Linked DNA regions of Homo sapiens: region 2 is linked to region 1. A link means that fine-mapping ties the variant in region 1 to the expression of a gene that starts in the linked region. Tissue or cell type: whole blood. Region 1 holds a variant in brackets; the other region holds the start of a gene. All regions are shown on one strand. Distances are between the middles of the regions. Region 1 overlaps SUGP2 (SURP and G-patch domain containing 2). Region 2 holds the start of ARMC6 (armadillo repeat containing 6).

Evidence for each region. PIP is the estimated chance that this variant, and not a neighbour inherited with it, causes the effect.
Region 2: ARMC6 starts here. The variant in region 1 is fine-mapped to the expression of ARMC6 in whole blood (TOPMed, PIP 0.97).

Annotation. Positions count from the first base shown.
Region 1 is chr19:18,993,134-19,002,791 of GRCh38, forward strand. It overlaps SUGP2 (SURP and G-patch domain containing 2), which reads right to left. Exons shown (of 11, transcript NM_001017392.5): 8 at 8,480-8,541; 9 at 2,011-2,147; 10 at 1,233-1,353; 11 at 1-607. The coding sequence ends at 1,233. Among named protein-coding and RNA genes, the nearest start is that of SUGP2, 36 kb to the right of the region's middle. The variant C/T (reference allele first, on the strand shown) is at 4,644.
Region 2 is chr19:19,028,278-19,037,935 of GRCh38, forward strand. ARMC6 (armadillo repeat containing 6) reads left to right here and starts at 5,326. Exons shown (of 9, transcript NM_001199196.2): 1 at 5,326-5,653; 2 at 5,854-5,961. The coding sequence starts at 5,933. It overlaps SUGP2 (SURP and G-patch domain containing 2), which reads right to left and starts at 5,240. Exons shown (of 11, transcript NM_001017392.5): 1 at 5,160-5,240; 2 at 2,674-2,805. The coding sequence starts at 2,794. RefSeq lists an enhancer at 3,972-4,473 and silencers at 4,400-4,479, 4,900-5,329.

The sequences.
Region 1 (9,658 bases):
ATACTGTTGCTAAAATTTCATTAAGTCTCTCAAGATGCATTGATGAGATGAGACACCATGAATAACACATTCATCAACTCAAGTATGGCAACTGTTCAGAGAGCTTCAGAGCTTTGGTACCCGAGTGCAGACTTGGTAATTACCGGGAATTTGTCTCCCCCGTATAAATTCTGGCGAACAACGAGAAAACACCATCTGTGATCGTTTCCACATCACGTTTGCTAACAGAGCACTTCTGGAGAGCAATGGCCAGTCCAACTGGAAAATCAGCCAGAGGAGCTGGTTCCTCAGCACTCACAGGCTGAGGTGCCTTTCGGGGGCAGCGCCACCTTCTGAAGGGGAACCAAGACAGATTTGGAGGGGACTTGCTGCTAAAAGCATGTGAACAGAGAGGAGAGGCAAAAGCACATTGAAAATGGTGCATGTTTTTTTCTTTGAGAGAAAGAAAAGCCAGCGAAACCTCCGCCCCAGAGACTGCAGAGACGTTTGTTTTCATGTACACACCAAACCGTACTTGGGCACTGGCTCCAGGCCGATCCAGGGCAGGGATGATGTTTTAAGGGCAATTGCTGCTTCAAGGCTTATCTTTCACATCAGTGGTTTTGATCTATTCAGGAAGAGAACGATTTTGTTCAAAACTGAGGTGGAAATTAGGTGAGGGGGCAACTAAAAAAAAAAAAGAATAGAAAGATGAGGATATTTACAGGCCCAAGGCCCTGCAGAAGGAAAAGGATTTGAAGACCCTCACAAAGGGACACAGCCAACTGCCATCCTCTGTGGCAGTGGCTGTCACAGTCGCCCTTCCACTTGCATGATGGCAAGGCCCTCTGGACTAGGAACAGTCCGTTTGCTGGTCATGTTATGTGGTAGGTGGCTGTCATCTGTGAGAGAAAACTTGAGCAAGAGAAGAGACAGGCGTGGCCTATTTCCACACGCACATCCACGGAGGCTGGCCTGGAGGCCTTGAGGGGCTCACAGCCGGGGCACCAGGCAGGCCATGCGCATCTGCCCTTGGCCAGTGTGAGGTTTGCTCCTTCAGCAAACCTGGAAGGTAAGAATGGGGCATATCCACATCCATAGACCCTTTTGTTTCCCTCACAGAATTTTGTGATTTTTTTTGTGTGTGGCATTTTTGGGGGAGCAGGGAACATCAACTTTGTTGGGGGAAATTTCTCTGCATACCAGCACGCCAGCGAGGGCAGACGGCCTTACACACTGGCCTGTGAACATACCTATTTGTTGGCCCGCTTGTGTCTGTACATCTGCATCATCCTCTGTCGGAACACATCGAATGTGTCTTCTTTGTGCTCCTGCCCGTCAGCACCCAACCCTTCCCCTTCCGAGGGGGTTCCCCTAGGGAGTGAAAAAGAGAGTCAGTTGTGCACCTGAGCCCAGGGCCTGGCATGCCAGGAACTGGGCATGGGCACAAACAGTCCATGAGATGCAGGTGTTTGGGACACACACTGAGACATCAAAGAAAGGGAAAATCAAGACGCGACTCACAGTAGAAACAAGGAGTACTCACCCTCGAAGAGCTGGCTTTTGAGGGGGTGCCCAGAGGGCCCTGGTTACCTCGGAATGCCTTACCCAGCAGGAACTAAGCTCAGTATTAAATGAAATGCCTGCTGGAGGTTATGATCGGGGTTTAATAAACTTTGGGCCTGTGTTCGGGACCCTGGCTGGCCCGGCTATGGGTTCCCGGGAATGGGAAAGCAGTTCCAGACGGAAACTACACAGAAATACCACTTAGCTTTTATGATGGTCACAAATGTGGCCAAAATGACCAGGGCCAACAAGCTGGTTAAAAAATCTACACCAGGACAGAAAGGAGCCCTGTAAACACCTGCACATGTAAATGATCAGCTTCTCATCTGAAGATGCCTTCTGTTTAAAAAACAAAAATCAACTGCCAGCTGTAAGCCATCTTGGCTGTGAAGGAGCCAAGCGGCAGGCTGCAGGTGGAAGGACTGAGGCCCCACCCACTCCCACCCCAGGCTGCCTGCTGCGTACACGCTGACCGGCTCCCTGATGCCCTTTCCGAGGGAGCCCAGGCCATGGCCCTCCTTCCAGCCCATCTTCTGCAGCATCTGGAAGCCCAGGTTCTTATCGGTCAGCTTCTGCTGGGCGAAGTCCAAGTCCTTGGGTTTCTGAGGAGAGAGGAGAGTCCAGGCATGTGGGCCACAGGGAGATGCCTGGATCAAGGGTCTGTCCTAGGCTATGCCTGGAGCCCCTCACCCCCAAATGCCCTCCTGACTCCCCAGATGCTCAGGCTCAAGCTCCAGTCACTTCCCCAGTTCTCTGCAACATCCCTGGGTGGGATGGAACTTCTAAGTCAGAGGTCACTGGCCTGAGGTCAGTCGTGCCTCTCAGCTACCACTATAACCCTGGTGCCAAGACTGTGAGGAAAACTGGGTAAGGGAATGGCCAGTCCCGGGGTCAAGGAGTCAGTAGGAAGGCCCTCAGCGGAACCCTGGATAAAGAAGGGTGGCCCTGTGATGACCACAGGGCGCAGCCCAGGGAAGAGTGGGGGGCACCAGGGCACAGGCCTGCAGGCAGGATGGGGGCCAGACAGTGGGTGAGAACTGGCTGGCAGCACCCTCCCTGAACCACCCCAACATACCCCTCCCCGAGTGCTTCATTCACTCCCTGGCTGCATTGTCTGTCTGTCCTCAGGACTGAGTTCTACTTGGACATTGGGGTCTGTGTCTAGCACAGAGCAGACCTCACTGAGAGCTAGTACAGCTGTTGATTGCTCCTGTGGGTGGTGGGGAAGTGCAGCAATCTCTGGGCCACTAGATGGAGATCTGGAGACAGACAGGGCCCTGGGGCCTCTGGAGGAGGAGCCTGCAGGGCTGTAGCAGAAGGAATTTCTATTCACTCATGAATATTCATGACACACTGCTGTGTGACAGAGCCCAGCTGGGCAGTCCAAGACCTTGCCATGTATTCCTTGGCTCTTCACGAGTCAACTTGTGTGGGTGGGCTGGGCGTGGTGGCTCATGCCTGTAATCTCAGCAGTTTGGGAGGCCGAGGTGGGTGGATCACTGGAGGTCAGGAGTTCCAGACCAGCCTGGCCAACGTGGCAAAACCCCGTCTCTACTAAAATACAAAAATTAGCCAGGCATGGTGGCAGGCACCTGTAATCCCAGCTACTTGTGAGGCGGAGGCATGAGAATCGCCTGAACCTGGGAGGCAGAGGTTGCAGTGAGCGGAGACCGTGCCACTGCATTCCAGCCTGGGCAACACAATGAGACTGTCTAAAAAAAGAAACAAAATACAAAACTTGTGTGTGTTTTTTTTAAATATAGAGTCTTGCTATGTTGCCCAGGCTGGTCTCGGATTCCCGGCTTTAAGTGATCCTCCCACCTCAGTCTCCCCATTAACTGGAACTATAGGTATGTGCCACTGCACCCAGCTTTTGATGTTTTTTTTTTTTTAAGACGGAGTCTTGCTCTGTTGCCCAGGCTGGAGTGCAGTGATGCAATCTCAACTCATTGTAACCTCCGCCTCCTGGGTTCAAGCGATTCTCCTGCTTCAGCCTCCCGAGTAGCTGAGATTACAGGCGTGTGCCACCACGCCCACCTATTTTTGTATTTTTAGTAGAGACGGGGTTTCGCCATGTTAACCATGCTGGTCTTGATCAAACTCCTGACCTCAGCTGATCTGCCCGCCTCAGCCTCACAAAGTGCTGGGATTACAGGCATGAGCCACTGCGCCTGGCTGATGTATTTATTTAAGGCATTTACTGAACGACCTGGGGAGGCTGTGAGGGTTCATGTGCTCTTGAGAGGGAGGGAGGAAGGTGCTGAGGAGGATCACGGGGGCTGGTGCTGGGGGTCTGAGCAGGGGACAGGTGGGAGTGGCTGGGAGAGGGTTAGATGACCCTGGGCATGGGAAGCAGGGTGAGAAGGGCATGCTGAGTGCTGTGAGCTCAGGTCTTTGGGCAGTCAGCCCTCATCAGCTTAGCAACCTGCCCCATGATGTCATGCAGGCCTCACGAGGTATAATTCAACCAAAAGACAAATCCCCCCCTTGCCATCTGCATTGAGGTGCCCAGGAATCAGCTTCCCTAACGTTAGGGGTGCATGTGGGAGGCACTCCAGAGACAAAGGAGCTTGGAGACAAGGCACAAAAGGCTGAGCCTGGGGGAGCCAGGGGCTGGGAGAGGAAAGGGAGAAGGGAGAGAGCAGGGCCTCAGGTCAGGAGGGAGGGAGGGAGGAGAGAGCAAGTGCTCCCATAAGGAAGGCCTGGGCCTCTGGAGCTCCTGGGGCCTCAGTGTTCTCACCCTAGAAAGGGACAAAACAACCTGGAGAGGTGCTGAGAACTCAACATGCAGCAAGATGTAGGGGGTCAGAAACGGATACCCTAAGGCTGGGCGCGGTGGCTCACGCCTGTAGTCCCAGCACTTTGGGAGGCCAAGGTGCGTGGATCACGATGTCAGGAGTTTGAGACCAGCCTGACCAACATGGTGAATCCCCATCTCTACTAAAAATACAAAAATTAGCCAGGTGTGGTGGCACGCCCCTGTAATCCCAGCTACTCTGGAGGCTGAGGCAGGAGAATCCCTTGAACCTGGGAGGCAGAGGTTGCAGTGAGTTGAGATCATGCCATTGCACTCCAGCCTTGGCGACAAAGGGAGACTC[C/T]GTCTCAAAAAAAAAAAAAAAAAAAAAGAAAGAAAGAAAGAAAGCGATACCCCGAATTATAGCACTTTGACAGGTGGGACTAAAGTAGCAGCCTCAAGGTCCCTCCCAAAGCACAGGAGGAAGCTGTTTTCTTCAAGTTCCCTATCTACCTAGAAACTGGACTTGCCAAAGAAGAACACAAGGGCCTTGGATCCCTTCCCTGAAATGTCATTAACCAGAGTTGAAAACTCCTATCACACAAGAAGAGATGGAACATTAAACACCACACCTAGAGCCCAGACCACTGGCTGTTCTCTAGTCCCATTCAATTCTCAATGAGGATCATTCACAAGATGATGCCTGCCTCCATTCATCTCTCCTAAAATCATCTGCTTCCCCTCTAAAGTTACCTACAGCCTCCCATCTGCCCTCTCCCCTACAAAGAGGTATTTCAGCTTCAACCACCTGGCCCTTCTTTGAGTTTTCATAATGTTTTATATGGCTCCTGTGCTTATGCACGTGAATAAATATGTATAACTTTTTTGTTTCAAGACAGGATCTTGCTCTGTCACCCAGGCTGGAGTGCAGTGGCTCCATCATGGCTCACTGCAGTCTTGAACTCCCGGGCTCAAGTGATCCCCCTGCCTTGGCCTTCCAAAGTCCCGGGATTACAGGTGTAAGCCACCGCACACCTTTTTTTATCCTGTTAATCTTCTTATTGTCAGTTCATTTCAACAGGCTTAGACTTGGACCTTCAAAGGCGGAGGGAAATTCCCTTTGTTCTCTTCAGAGGCATCTCCGAGGGTATTATATAAAGTAGCTGTGTGTGTGTATGCATGTGTGTGTGCGTGTGTGTATGCATGTGTGTGTGCATATGCGTGCACATGTGTGTATCTTGTGTGTGTGCGTGAGTTACTGGATGCAGGCGGCCCCTCCATAATGGCATGAGGTGGTCTTGGTGAGGCGGTGTGGGCAGAAGTGTCTCTGCAGGGCAGTTAAGGAGGGGAGGTATGAAGGGAGGAGCTATGCTATGGGCTGGGACAGGAAGAGGGGCACAAACAGTGAAGAGACACCCCTGCAAACCAGGGGACACCAGACAGGACCTGCTACACTGGGGGGCCCCTTGCCATGAGAAAGTGGCCTGGAGAAAAGAGGTGACAGAACCCACCGGCTGAGATGAGAAACGGGGCATCCGTCAGGCCCTTCTGGGAGCTGTGCACGACCTGGGCCCTGGGATGACGGGTAGGGAAGGAAGGGGAAAGGCTGGTCATGGCAGGGCACAGGGGTCCCCAGAGGGCAGGTCTGTACTCTTTTCCCTTTCAGGAAGGCTGCTTGGAGGTGCAGTGGGAGGAAGAGGGTTTGGCTCAGCCTGGAAGTTTCTTCGTGAATGTTCAAATCTGTGTTTAACAATCATGATGGTGGTTTCCTGGACAGCTGGAGGAAAGCCAAGCCCTGTGGGCGAGGTGGAGGTTTGCAGAGGAAAGCTGCAGCCACCACGGCCTCCCTTCCACCCACAGTCACTGGCAGACAGGAGGACAGGTGCAGAGCCCCAAGGAGACAGCAGCATGTGCAGGACACCCACCAGGAACCGCGTTCAGTTTAATCCTCACTGTACCTCCTACCTGCTGGGTAAGTGTGGCCATCCCATTTTACAGACAAATCCGTGGCTCAGGGGTTACACGCCAAGGTTACAAAACTACTCGGTGGCAGGGCTGAGCTAGAGTACAGCTGTGCCTGACACCAAGGTCCTGCTGTGCCCTCATCTGGCCGTGCCCTTATCCAGGCCACACCAAGGGGCACCAGATGCCAGCTCAGCCTAAAACCTGGCACATCAGTAAGGACTATGAGCTCTGGACTCGGGAAGGTCCCTCCTTCCTGCCATAATTGGGGTCAGACTGACCTAGGTCACTCGGAAGGGGTTGGAAGCAACATGGCACTGCCTGACACCAGCAGAGCGATCTCGCCTGGCTCCCCGCCCTCCTCCCTGACCATGAAGGACTGGTGAAGTCTCTCCACATGTGTCCCAGGTGACCCTGCTTGCCCCCAGCACTGTGTCCCCCAGGCCATCTGGAGTGTACCTGCCCCCTTTCCATAACCTGGCTCCAGGTCAGTGAATGGCAGTTCTGTCCCTCTTCTGCCCAAGCTGACAACCCTGGGGTCATCTGGACTCCTGGCTTTTGCACACCCAGCCCACAAGCAGGTGTCACCCACTCCATCTTCTCCCCTTCTCATTGCTCCTCATGCCCTGGTCCAACTGTCTTAAGTTTGAGCCTCCTCCTGGTTCCCGCCCACAGGCTGCTCTCCACCCTAGTGGCCACATCCACCACAGGTCCCAGAGGTACCCTCCCTTCCCTGAGAAAGGGCCACAGCGTTAACATCTGTTGAGGTCCTGTGTGACCACCCCCCGGATTCCTCTGCTGCCACAAAGGCCTCTTGCTGCCCCAGCCTCTCTACCGAGGCTGTGCCCTTCTCAGATCTCTACACTGTTTCTCCTCAGCTCCTCCAGGCTTGTGCCAACGTCATCTGCAAGAGAGACCTCCCTTGGCTTTCCCAATTCAGCGGCATCCCCTCGACCCCACCTTATTCTCCCTCTCTTTGACCTGCTTCTCTTTGCCCACAGCATCCCCAGGACTGCCTCATCCATTTCTCTTTCACTGTTGGCCCTGCTTGCTGCTGCCTCCAGGTGGACAGTCGGGACCTGGCACGTAGGAGGTGCTGACCGCACACACCACGCTCTGCTTACTAGCAGATTAGTGAACTCTCTTCACCACCCTTCCAGTCTACTAAGCTTGTAAGTTTTTATGTTTTATTTTTTAAGGAGACCAGGAGGAGACATAGGTCTCACTATGTTGCCCAGGCTGGCCTCAAACTCCTGGGCTCAAGTGATCCCCCTGTCTTGGCCTCCCAAAGCACTGGGATTACAGGCGTGAATCAGTGCACCTGGATAACTTGAACTTTTTTTTTTTTTTTGAGACAGGCTCTCAGTCTGTCGCCCAAGCTGGGGTGCAGTGGTGCAATCAGCTCACTGCAGCCACGACCTCTCAGGCCCAAATGATCCTTCCACCTCAGCCTCCAGAGTAGCTGGGACTACAGGCATGCACCACCATGCCCAACTAATTTTTGTATTTTTTGCAGAGACAGGGTTTTGCCTATTGCCCAGGCTGGTCTTAAACTCTTGGACTCAAGCGATCTGCCCACTTTGGCCTCCTAAACTGCTGGGATCACAAGTGTAAGACACCCAATCGGCCTTAGCTTGAACTTCTTTTTTTTTTTTTTTTGAGACGGAGTCTCACTCTGTCGCCCAGGCTGGAGTGCAGTGGCGCGATCTCGGCTCACTGCAAGCTCTGCCTCCCAGATTCATGCCATTCTCCTGCCTCAGCCTCCTGAGTGGCTGGGACTACAGGCGCCTGCCACCATGCCCGGCTAATTTTTTGTATTTTTAGTAGAGACGGGGTTTCATCGTGTTAGCCAGGATGGTCTCGATCTCCTGACCTTGTGATCCACCCGCCCTCTGCCTCCCAAAGTGCTGGGATTACAGGCGTGAGCCACCACACCTGGCCTAGCTTGAACTTCTTAAGGGCCAAGACATTATCTCGTTTATCTCTCAAATCCCACTGCATCCATTACAGGGATCTCAACTATCCATTACACAGATGAATCACTAGTCTATGCTTTGGACAAAGGCAAAACAGTTTTCAAAAGCCCTCCCAAGAGAAAAGTCTCTGTTGTGTTTTACACATTAATACCTCAGTTTGAAATGTTAGCACAGCTTAATCACAAGCTGCAGCATCCTTTGGAACTCCAACAAATTCTAACCAACTATACTTTGAGTGAGGACTACCAATGATTACGCTCACCTTCTTTTTGGACATGGGACGACCCCGAGGCCTGTCATAGGCAATTCGAACTGGTTCATGGACTAGAAGACAAAAGAAAGAGACACATACACATACATGTGCTTTTCCTAAATTACTTAGAGACTGAAGATCTTGCAGTCTATTTTGGCTAACAGTTCTCTGATGACAGAAGGTGTCTTAGGCTCTGCATGGCAGCTGCTGAGCCCCAGCTCCTCTCAAGAATGAACATGTATGACCCCTGGAGTGAGCAGAGACGGGACACGCTCAGGGTAGGCAGCTTGGGCCATAATGAAGGGTTCACTGAGCGGTGCCTTGCTTTTGGAAAGTCTATTCAAACCTAAGAGTCCCCACATTTATAACAAAAGATCCAATACATGGATTATTTTCCATGACTACAGAAATATATTTTGCTTCAACAAAATATTTGTGATACTGTGCCCTCCTAGTTTATCTGCAGCTAATTCACTGGGAAATAATTAAAGTCTGGCCAGGCGCAGTGGCTCATGCCTGTAATCCCATCACTTTGGGAGGCCGAGATGGGCGGATCACCCGAGGTTAGGAGTTCGAGACCAGCCTGGCCAGCATGGCGAAACCCCGTCTCTACTAAAAGTACAAAAACTAGCCAGGCGTGGTGGCGGGAGCCTGCAATCCCAGCTATTCAGGAGGCTGAGGCAGGAGAATAACTTGAACCCGGGAGGCAGAGGTTGTAGTGAGCCGAGATTGTGCCACTGCACTCCAGCCTGGGCGACAAGAACAAGAGTCCATCTCAAAAAAAAAAAAAGAATTAAAGTCTGCCTAAAACTTTCTAGTGAAAAACAACCATGCTTCTCATATAGAGAACCACATCATATCATTTTATTCTATTTTTTATGAAAGGGAGATTAGCAAGTCTGTTTTTTTTTTTTTTTTTTTTTTTTTGAGACACAGTTTCGCTCTTGTTGCCCAGGCTGGAGTGCAGTGGTGTGATCTCAGCTCACTGCAACCTTCACCTCCCAGGTTCAAGCGATTCTCCAGCCTCAGCCTCCCGAGTAGCTGGGATTTCAGGAATGCGTCACCACGCCTCGCTAATTCTGTATTTTTAGTAGAGATGGGATATCTCCATGTTGGTCAGGCTGGTCTCAAACTCCCGACCAAAGGCGATCCTCCCGCCTTGGCCTCCCAGAGTGCTGGGATTACAGG
Region 2 (9,658 bases), 35 kb after region 1:
GAGAAGGAGTACCAGATCCAAGTCGGGCCCTCAGTGGTACTCTGGAATTTACTCTGGGAGAGACAGAAGGCTAGTGAAGAGTTCTAAGCAGAGGGATGATCTCACTGGCTGCTGCACAGGGAACAGATTAAAGGAGATGAGCACAGACGTGGATGTTCCTGCAAGAAATCCACTGTGATAACCCAGGTATTGATGATTGGTATTGATGGCATGATTAGGGAGGGAACATTAGTGACAGAGAGTGATGGCTGGATTCTACTCAAGAGAATTTTCTCATACCCTTTATGAGGAGATGAAAAGTTCAGAGTGGAGCAGAGAAACAGAGAAAGGCTAAACGATAGACTGCTTTGCAACACAGAAATGTTCCAGAATCACCTAGCATACTGCTAGGTTTCTAGTCCTCTCCCACCCACGGCCCCCTAATCTGTCTTTTTTTTTTGAGACGGAGTCTCGTTCTGTCACCCACGCTGGAGCGCAGTGGTGCGATCTCGGCTCACTGCAACCTCCACCTCCTGGGTTCAAGCTATTCTTCTGTCTCAGCCTCCTGGGTAGCTGGGATTATAGGGGCCTGCCACATTTTTGTATTTTTAGTAGACACGGGGTTTCACCATGTTGGCCAGACTGGTCTCAAACTCCTGACCTCAGGTGATCTGCCCACCTTGGCCTCCCAAAGTGCTGAGATTACATGTGTAAGCCACTGCACCTGGCCGTCTTTTTTTGAGACAGGGTCTCACTCTTTGGCCCAGGCTGGAGTATAATGGCACAAACACAGCTTACTGCAGCCTCGACTTCCTGGGCACAAGCGAACTTCCTGCCTCAGCCTCCCAAGTAGCCAGGGCCATAGGCGCATGCCACCATGCCCAGATAAATTTTTTTTTTTTTGAGACGGAGTCTTGCTCTGTCACCCAGGCTGGAGTGCAGTGGCACAACCTTGGCTCGCTGCAACCTCCGCCTCCTGGGTTCACGCCATTCTCCTGCCTCAGCCTCCTGAGTAGCTGGGACTACAGGCGCCCGCCACCACGCCCGGCTAATATTTTTAGTAGAGACAGGGTTTCACCGTGTTAGCCAGGATGGTCTCGATCTCCTGACCTTGTGATCCGCCCGCCTCGGCCTCCCAAAGTGCTAGGATTACAGGCTTGAGCCACTGCGCCCGGCCATTTTTTTTCTTTTTTTTTTTTTGAGATGGAGTCTCGCTCTGTCGCCCAGGCTGGAGTGCAGTAGCGCAATCTTGGCTCACTGCAGGCTCCACCTCCCGGGTTCACGGCATTATCCCGCCTCAGCCTCCCAAGTAGCTGGGACCACAGGCACCCACAACCACACCTGGCTAATTTTTTTTTTTTTTTGATTTTTAGTAAAGACGGGGTTTCACCATTCACAGGATGGTCTCGATCTCCTGACCTTGTGATCCTCCCAGCACTCTGGGAGGCCGAGGCGGGCAGATCACAAGGTCAGGAGTTCAAAACCAGCCTGACCAACATAGTGAAACCCCATCTTTACTAAAATAAATACAAAAAAATTAGCCGGGCATGGTGGCAGGCACCTGTAATCTCAGCTACTCGGGAGGCTGAGGCAGGAGAATCGCTTGAATCCAGGAGGCACAGGCCGCAGTGAGCCAAAATCACGTCACTGCACTCCAGCCTGGGCGACAGTACAAGACTCTGTCTCAAATAAAAAAAAAAAAGAACTAGTAGAGCTTAAACCTGGGCAGCGGTGACAGGGATGGAGCCAGGAAATGGATCCAAGAACCTGTCTTGGGGCTGGGAGCAGTGGCTCACGCCTGTAATCGCAACATGCTGAAGGCAGAGGTGGGAGGATCACTTGAGCCCAGGAGTTGCAGACCAGCCTGAAAACATAGCAAGACTCCATATCTATTAAAAAAAACAAAAAACAAAAAAAACAAAAACATAAAAAACACCAAAAAACAAAACTGGGCTGGGCTCGGTGGCTCATGCCTGTAATCCCAGCATCTTGGGAGGCCAAGGCAAGTGGATCACCTGAGGTCGGGAGTTCGAGACCAGCCTGGCCAACATGGTAAAACCTCATCTCTACTACAAATAGAAAAATTAGCTGGGCGTGGTGGTGCATGCCCGTAATCCCAGCTACTCAGGAGGCTGAGGCAGGAGAATCGCTTGAACCCAGGAGGCGGAGGTTGCAGTGAGCCAAGAGGCGGAGGTTGCAGTGAGCCAAGATCCCTCCATTGCCCTCCAGCCTGGGAGACAAGAGTGAAACTCCGTCTCAAAACAAACAAACAAACAAACAAACAATAAACAAAACTGTCTTGAGGTGGGTCGGGGAGGATATCCAGTGAGAAGCTCCAGATAACTACATAATGATGACTGACAGATCAAAACATTATCCCCTGACCAAGTGCAGTGGCTCATGCCTATAATCCCAGCACTCTGGGAGGCAGAGATGGAAGGATGGCTTGAGCCTAGGAGTTCAAGGGTGCAGTGAGCTAAAACTGCGCCACTGCACTTCAGCCTGGGGGAGAGAGTAAGACCCTATCACAAAAAAGAAACCAAACCAAAATAAAAACCTTTACCTCCTCCTAAATAAGGAAACTAAGGATCAGAGGACTGGTATTATTTGCCCAAGGTATTGTAATCTTCCTGCCTTGGCCCTAAGATACACCCCTACCAAAACAACAACTACAACAACAACACTTTATTTTACCTTGAGCTTTAAACTGAAGAGTTTCGCTTACAGCCTCACCACTGGCATCCATGTGATATCGTTTGGCTTTTTCTTGTAATACAGCATCAAAAGTCTCCTGTGTAATTCGTCTGGCTGCCATGTTATTTTGCCCTATGGTGAGAGAGAAAAAAATACACTAAGAGCAACAACTTGGAGCTGGGCGCGGTGGCTCATACCTGTAATCCTGGCACTTTGGGAGGTCGAGGTGGGCGGATCACCTGAGCTCAGGAGTTCGAGACCAGCCTAGGCAACATGATGAAACTAAAATACAAAAAATTCAGGCTGGGTGTGGTGGCTCACACCTGTAATCCCAGGACTTTGGGAGGCTGAGGTGAGCGGATCATTTAAAGTCAGGAGTTGGAGACCAGCCTGGCCAACATGGCAAAACCCTGTCTCTACTAAAAATACAAAAATTAGCCGGGCATGGTGGTGCCTGCCTTTAATCCCAGCTACTTGGGAGGCTGTGGCAAGAGAATTGCTTGAACCCAGGAGGCGGAGGTTGCAGTGGGCCGAGATCATGCCACTGCACTCCAGCATGGGTAACAGAGTGAGACTCCGTCTCAAAAAAAAAAAAAAAAAAATTTCACCAGGCATGGTGGCACGTGCCTGTAATCCCAAATACTCAGGAGGCTGAGGCATGGGAATTGCTTGAACCAGGGAGACAGAGGTTGCAGTGAGCCGAGATCATGCCACTGCCCTCCAGACTGGGGGACAGAGCGAGACTGTCTCAAAGAAAAAAAAAATGCGTGCTCACAGAACCTGCTCTATTTCACTTAATCCTCGAAGTAAGGAGGCAGTAATCCATAATCCTCGCATGGTACTTCAGAGGCAAGCTGGACCCTTTTTATTTATCTTTTTTTTTTTTTTTTTTAAGTAGAGACAGGGTTTTGCTAGGTTGGCCAGGCTGGTCTCGAACTCCTGACCTCAAGCAATCTGCCCACCTTGTCTGGACTCTTTTAAGGGGGTCTCTGCCCTCACGAAGTTCACAGGTGTGTGCTGGCTGAAAAGGAGCAAGACAAACCTTCTCTGGGCCCATCTCCTTGGAATCCATTAAAAGCAGCTCTGTGAAAGCAGTTCTATCTGCTGGAGGAAGGTGTCAACCAACACACATAACTGAGCATAACAGAGTAGGAAGGGTGGGACCACAACCCTCGCAAATCGTGGTTAGGAAAGAAGAGATCAATCTTTTTTTTTTTTTTCTTCCTTTTTTTGAGACTCTCCCTGTTGCCCAGGCTGGAGTGCAGTGGCATGATCTCGGCTAACTGCAACCTCCGCCTCCTGGACTCAAGCAATTCTCCTGCCTCAGCCTCCTGAGTAGCTGGGATTACAGGAGTCCGCCACCGCATCCGACTAATTTTTATATTTTAGGTAGAGATGGAGTTTCACCATGTTGGCCAGGCTGGTCTTGAATTCCTGACCTCAAGTGATTCGCCCGCTTCGGCCTCCCAAAGTGCTGGGATTCCAGGCCGTGAGCCACTGCGCCTGGCCCAGGATCACTCTTTTCCCATTCACAGACTCAGCAGGGCACAGAGGCTCTGAGAACTTCCTTCCCTTCTAAAAGAAGCCTCTTGACAGTGAGTGGCGGGACCCCCAACCAATGACAATGAACTAGTGACAGTTCATTCTGCGCTGGGTCCTTGCGCGATCTCCCAACCACCCACTGAAGAGGCGGGTCCTGTTATGAATGACATTAGGGTGAGGAGGCAAAGGGAGACAGACTCAACGACCCATTCAAGACCAGACAGCCCAGATTTGAACCTGGCAAAAAGGGTATTCGTGCATCCAAAGCCCCGAAGAATGAGTAAAAAGATTAAGCAACATTTTGGGGTCCAGGGGCTGCATCCTTAACCATCAAGATATCCCGCTTCGCAAAACCTCCAACTTCAAGAGACAACCCGTAGGGTCCATTTCCCATCACGATCACCGCCTCCCCCACCCGCCTCCCCCAGTCCCATCCTTCAGCCCTTTTCCCGGGGCGCCCCCTTGTTCTCTGCTGGCAAAGGGCAGGGTTCCCGGGTCAGGTGACCCAGGTTCAAATCACACGATTCTAAGCTTTCTGTGCTTCCGTTTCCCCACCTATGGAATGGGCAGCCAGTAAAGGGGCTGGTGTGGGGGCTGAACCGGTTCTAAAGAGGGCAAGGGCCCGATGCAGCGCTGGGCGCCGTTATCTCCTCCCGAGCGGGGGCCGCTCCGAGTTCGGGAGGAATGAATGAACGACTGAACCAATGAGCCTTTGTGGACGCGGCCCGCCGTCTCCCGGCCTCTGCGGGCGAGGAAATGGGGGCGCCGGGCCCGGGAGGCCGCAGCCGGCCACCCAGGCCAACCCGGCGGGGACGCGGCCGCCGCCGCAGCCAGAGGGCCGAGCCTGCGACGCCATCACGGAGCCCGGGGCGGGCCCCCAAGGCCGAGCCCGAGCTTCCCACCCCGGGAGCCACCCACCGACGACGCCAGGGCCCGGGCCTCACCCCGAGACCACCGCGCGCGGAGCCACCCCCGCCGCCGCCTCAGGCTCCTCACCCGCCGCCGCCGCCGCGCGAGGCGGGGACATGCAAATGAACCAACGGTCTCCGCAGCGCCGCGCCGCGCAGGCGCAAGCCGCCGCCGAGTCCTGGTGCGCAGGCGCGGGCCGCCGCGGCCCGGCTCTCTTGCGCAAGCGCGCTGTCCGCTTCTTCTGGGCGGACGCTCTGGAGGCAAAACATTTCCCTGCTGGGGGCGGCGACCACCGTGAGCGTCCCGGAAGGGGCGGCAAAGACGCCTCCGTCGCGCACGAGGTGGCCTCGTTGGCTTTACCTTGGTTCGCGGTCGTCCTTGGTTATCGTGAGCGTCCGCGAGTCTCTGGGAGGCCAAGCCTAGGGGCGCCACAGCGCCTGCGCGCGTACGGCGGCCGGAAGGGGCTAGAGGCGGCTCCCTGGGTGACAACCGCGCGCCCCACCTTTCCCCACGTGGCCGCGAAGACCGGGTGAGACGCTGCGGCTGCCGAGGCCTGTCCCGCGCGGAGTGGGGAGTGGGGGTGCCGCAGGGTCGGGCTGGCGCGACCCTCGGGTACGTGGTTTGGGGGGAAAAAAAAAATGAAAGAATTTTACAGAAGCCGCCTGGGGACAAAATCCTCGGCTTCCCTGGCATTCGCTTTATTTTCATTCATTTTATTTATTCATTCAGCACCTGTGCACTGAGTGCCTGCTGCGTGTCGGGCCCCGTCCTAGGCAGTGGGGACAAGGAGGCTACAGGGTACAAATAAATGAGTGAACGATGTTGCTCTAGATACAGGTAATGGTGTGCAAATAATAACAGAGTGATGGGACGGGAAAGCAGGGCTGCTCTTTATCTAGAAGTGGTTTTGAAGGCTGTCTCTTGAGTGCTGGGAAGGATGAGAAAGGCGGGGAAGAGGAACTTGGAAGGCTTAGATAGAGAAGGTGCGGATAAGGAGGCTGGGTTTTGTTCTGAGAGGGTTGGGAAGCCACTACCGGGCTTTGAGCACGTGAGTGAGGTGGAGTCTAGGCTCTGGGAGTGGCAGGTGACGCCGCCCTTAGGGGAGGCTGGTGTTTGAACCAGAGTGGGTGTGGCTGGTAGAGGGACATGTGGATGGAGTCTTTTAGAGTCCCCAGCATGTCATGGCACACGTTTAATTTTCTTTTGAGACGGAGTCTTTCTCTGTCGCCCAGGCTAGAGTGTAGTGGCATGATCTTGACTCACTGCAACCTCCACCTCCCGGGTTCAAGGGCTTCCCCTGCCTCAGCCTCCCGAGTAGCTGGGACTACAGGTGCGCAACACCGCACCTGGCTAAATTTTGTATTTTTTTTTTTTTTGAAACGGAGTCAAAAGGAGTTCAAGCGATCTCCTGCCTCAGCCTCCTGAGTAGCTGGGATTACCGGTGTGCACTATCTTGCCTGGCCTTTTTTTTTTTTTTTGAGACGGAGTCTCGTTCTGTCACCCAGGCTGGAGTGCAGTGGCGCAATCTCAGCTCACTGCAAGCTCCGTCTCCTGGGTTCAGGCCATTCTCCTGCCTCAGCCTCCCGAGTAGCTGGAAATACAGGCACCCGCCACCACGCCCGGCTAGTTTTTTTGTATTTTTTTAGTAGAGACGGGGTTTCACCGTGTTAGCCAGGATGGTCTTGATCTCCTGACCTCATGATCCGCCCGCTTCGGCCTCCCAAAGTGCTGGGATTACAGGCGTGAGCCACCGTGCCCGGCCCTGGCTAATTTTTTGTATTTTCAGTAGAGACAGGATTTTGCTATGTTGGCCAGGCTGTTCTCAAACTCCTGACCTCAAGTGATCTACCCGCCTCAGACTCCCAAAGCGCTGGGATTATAGGCCTGAGCCACCGCACCTGGACAGCACAGTTTTCTTGATGAGCAGATTCCTGGCTGAGAGAAGGAAACTGGCTGCCAGTTAGGGGCCTTACTCATCTTCTGTTTTACCCTCAGCATGCCCTGATGGATAATAGGGACTGGTAATGCTGCTTCCCCCTTTTAGCCTAGGCTGTTCTCCAGGTAATTCTTACTTGGCCATCTCCAGGCACCATCTTATGTGTTCCAAATCTGTACTTTCCTCCTCCAACTCAGCCCTGTACCAGATCTAGGGGACCTTGGAGGACTCAGGTCAGGGGTGGTCACAGAGCCAGACCTTCCCAACTCAGTCAGCTCAGGGGTGGGTGGAAGGGAGGGGTTGTGGGTTGGGGAGTGAAGCCAGAGAGTGTGGGCTCTCTGAGTGGCCAGGAAAGGCAGCCACCTGGAAGGGCTGGCAGAAGCTCCACAGAGGACTGAGAATCCGAAGTATTTGAGACAGGTGTCAATCAGTTAGAAAGCTTATTTTGCCAAGGTTAAGGACATGTCTGTGACACAGCCTCAGGAGGTCCTGACAACATGTACCCAAGGTGGTTGGGGCACAGCTTGCTTTTATACATTTTAGGGAGACGTGAGATATAAATGAATATGTGTAAGATGGTCACAGGTAGAGACAAATGATTGCTTTCTTTTGAGTCTTTGGTCAGCCTTTCACAGAATACACGATTTATATGGGGTACAGGGCAGGTAGAGGAATAGTCATTTATGCCTCAGTCCGACTCATGAATCTGAGGTTTTGTTTCTTGTTTTTTGTTTTATTTTTTGAGATAGAGTCTCGCTCTGTCGCCCAGGCTGGAGTGCAATGGCGCAATCTTGGCTCACTGCAACCTCCACCTCCCGGGTTCAAGCAATTCTCTTGCCTCAGCCTCCTGAGTAGCTAGGATTACAGGCGCCCACTACCACGCCCAGTTAATTTTTATATTTTTAGTAGAGACGGGGTTTCGCCATGTTGGTCAGGCTGGTCTCGAATTCCTGACCTCAGGTGATCCACCGGTGTCAGCCTCCCAAAATGCTGGGATTACAGGCATGAGCCACGGAGCCAGGCCAAATCTGCATTTTTACATAAACGTTAGGGCAGAGAGAGCAACTGGATATGCATTTGTCTCAGGTGATGACTTTCTGTCCTGCACTTGTGAAGATCACCTGTCAATTTACATTGCCAGGGTGACATTCAACAAAATTGTTTTCAGGTAAAGATCTTGAGGGCCACAAGGAATTTCCTGGCCTGGCCGGGGTGGTGGGAGTGGAGTCCCCTACTCCTTACTCCCTACTGAGAAACTCTTTATATTACTCTTCCTTCACCTTTAACCTTGGAAATCCATAGCAGCCCTTAAAGAGCTCCCTTTTCTTCTGGGGCAGAAAGGAGAGGGGCCTATCTGCAAAAGAGTGAGATGGGACTCCTGCATAAACTTGCTGAATTGCCTCTTAAGCAACAAAGGAAAGGAACAAATAGCTAATTTATTGAGCCTGTCCATATCCTGTTCTGAGGAAGGTATAGGAGTTGGCTGAATTTTTCACTACTGCCCTATGAAGTAGATTCGTGTTTATCTCTGTTTGACACATGAGGGAATTGAAGAAAAGTGTATCTGGCTGGGCGTGGTGGCTCATGCCTGTAATCCCAGCATGATGGGAGGCCGAGGCAGGTGGGTCACCTGAGGTCAGGAGTTCGAGACTAGCCTGGCCAACATGGTGAAACCCTGTCTCTACTAAAAATACGAAAATTAGCTGGGCGTGGTGGCGTGGGCCTGTAGTCTCAGCTACTTGGAGGCTGAGGCACAAGAATCGCTTGAACCCAGGAGGCAGAGGTTGTGGTGAGCCAAGATCGTGCCACTGCATTCCAACCTGGGCGACAGAGCGAGACTCTGTCTCAAAAAAAAAAGAAAAGGGCATTGAAGTGGAGGGCATGGGAACTGGGTTCTGCAGGCTGGCTGCGAGCCAGTCCTTCTCCCGTCAGGCAGTGTGCAGTCCATGGTGGGCATCTGCAGGAACACAGATGGAATGTGTATATCCCATGCCACTGCCTGAAAAGAGAAGCATGGGCCAGAGTGACCTGTTTCTTTTTCCTTTTTTTTTTTTTTTGAGACAAGGTCTTACTTTGTCACCCAGGCTGGAGTTCAGGGATATGATCTCAGCTCACTGCAGCCTTGACCTCCCTGGGCTCCCACCTCAGCCTCCCAAATAGCTGTAACTACAGGTGCATGCTCCCACACCTGGCTAATTTTGGTATTTTTTATAGAGATGGAGTTTCGCCACGTGTCCAGGCTGGTCTCAAACTCCTGGCCTCATGTGATCCTTCCGCCTCGGCCTCCCAAAGTGCAGGCCACCATGCCTGGCCTGAAGTGGAAACTTGATAATTCCAGAACGGAAACTTGATATTACTGCAATAAGCAAGGTGGATATATTGAAACAATTAAAATTTAAAAAGTTGTTAACCTCTGTTAGGCTCTGGACCTAAGGCCTGTTCCTCCTTTTGTTCCAAAGGGACGGTGGCAAATGTTAGGTTCACTCGTACCCTGTCAAGACCTTCTGGTTAAGATCATCTACAGCAGGGGTCCCCAATTCCTGGGTCACAGACCCATACTGGTCCAGTGGTCCCTGGCCTGTTAGGACCTGGGCTGCA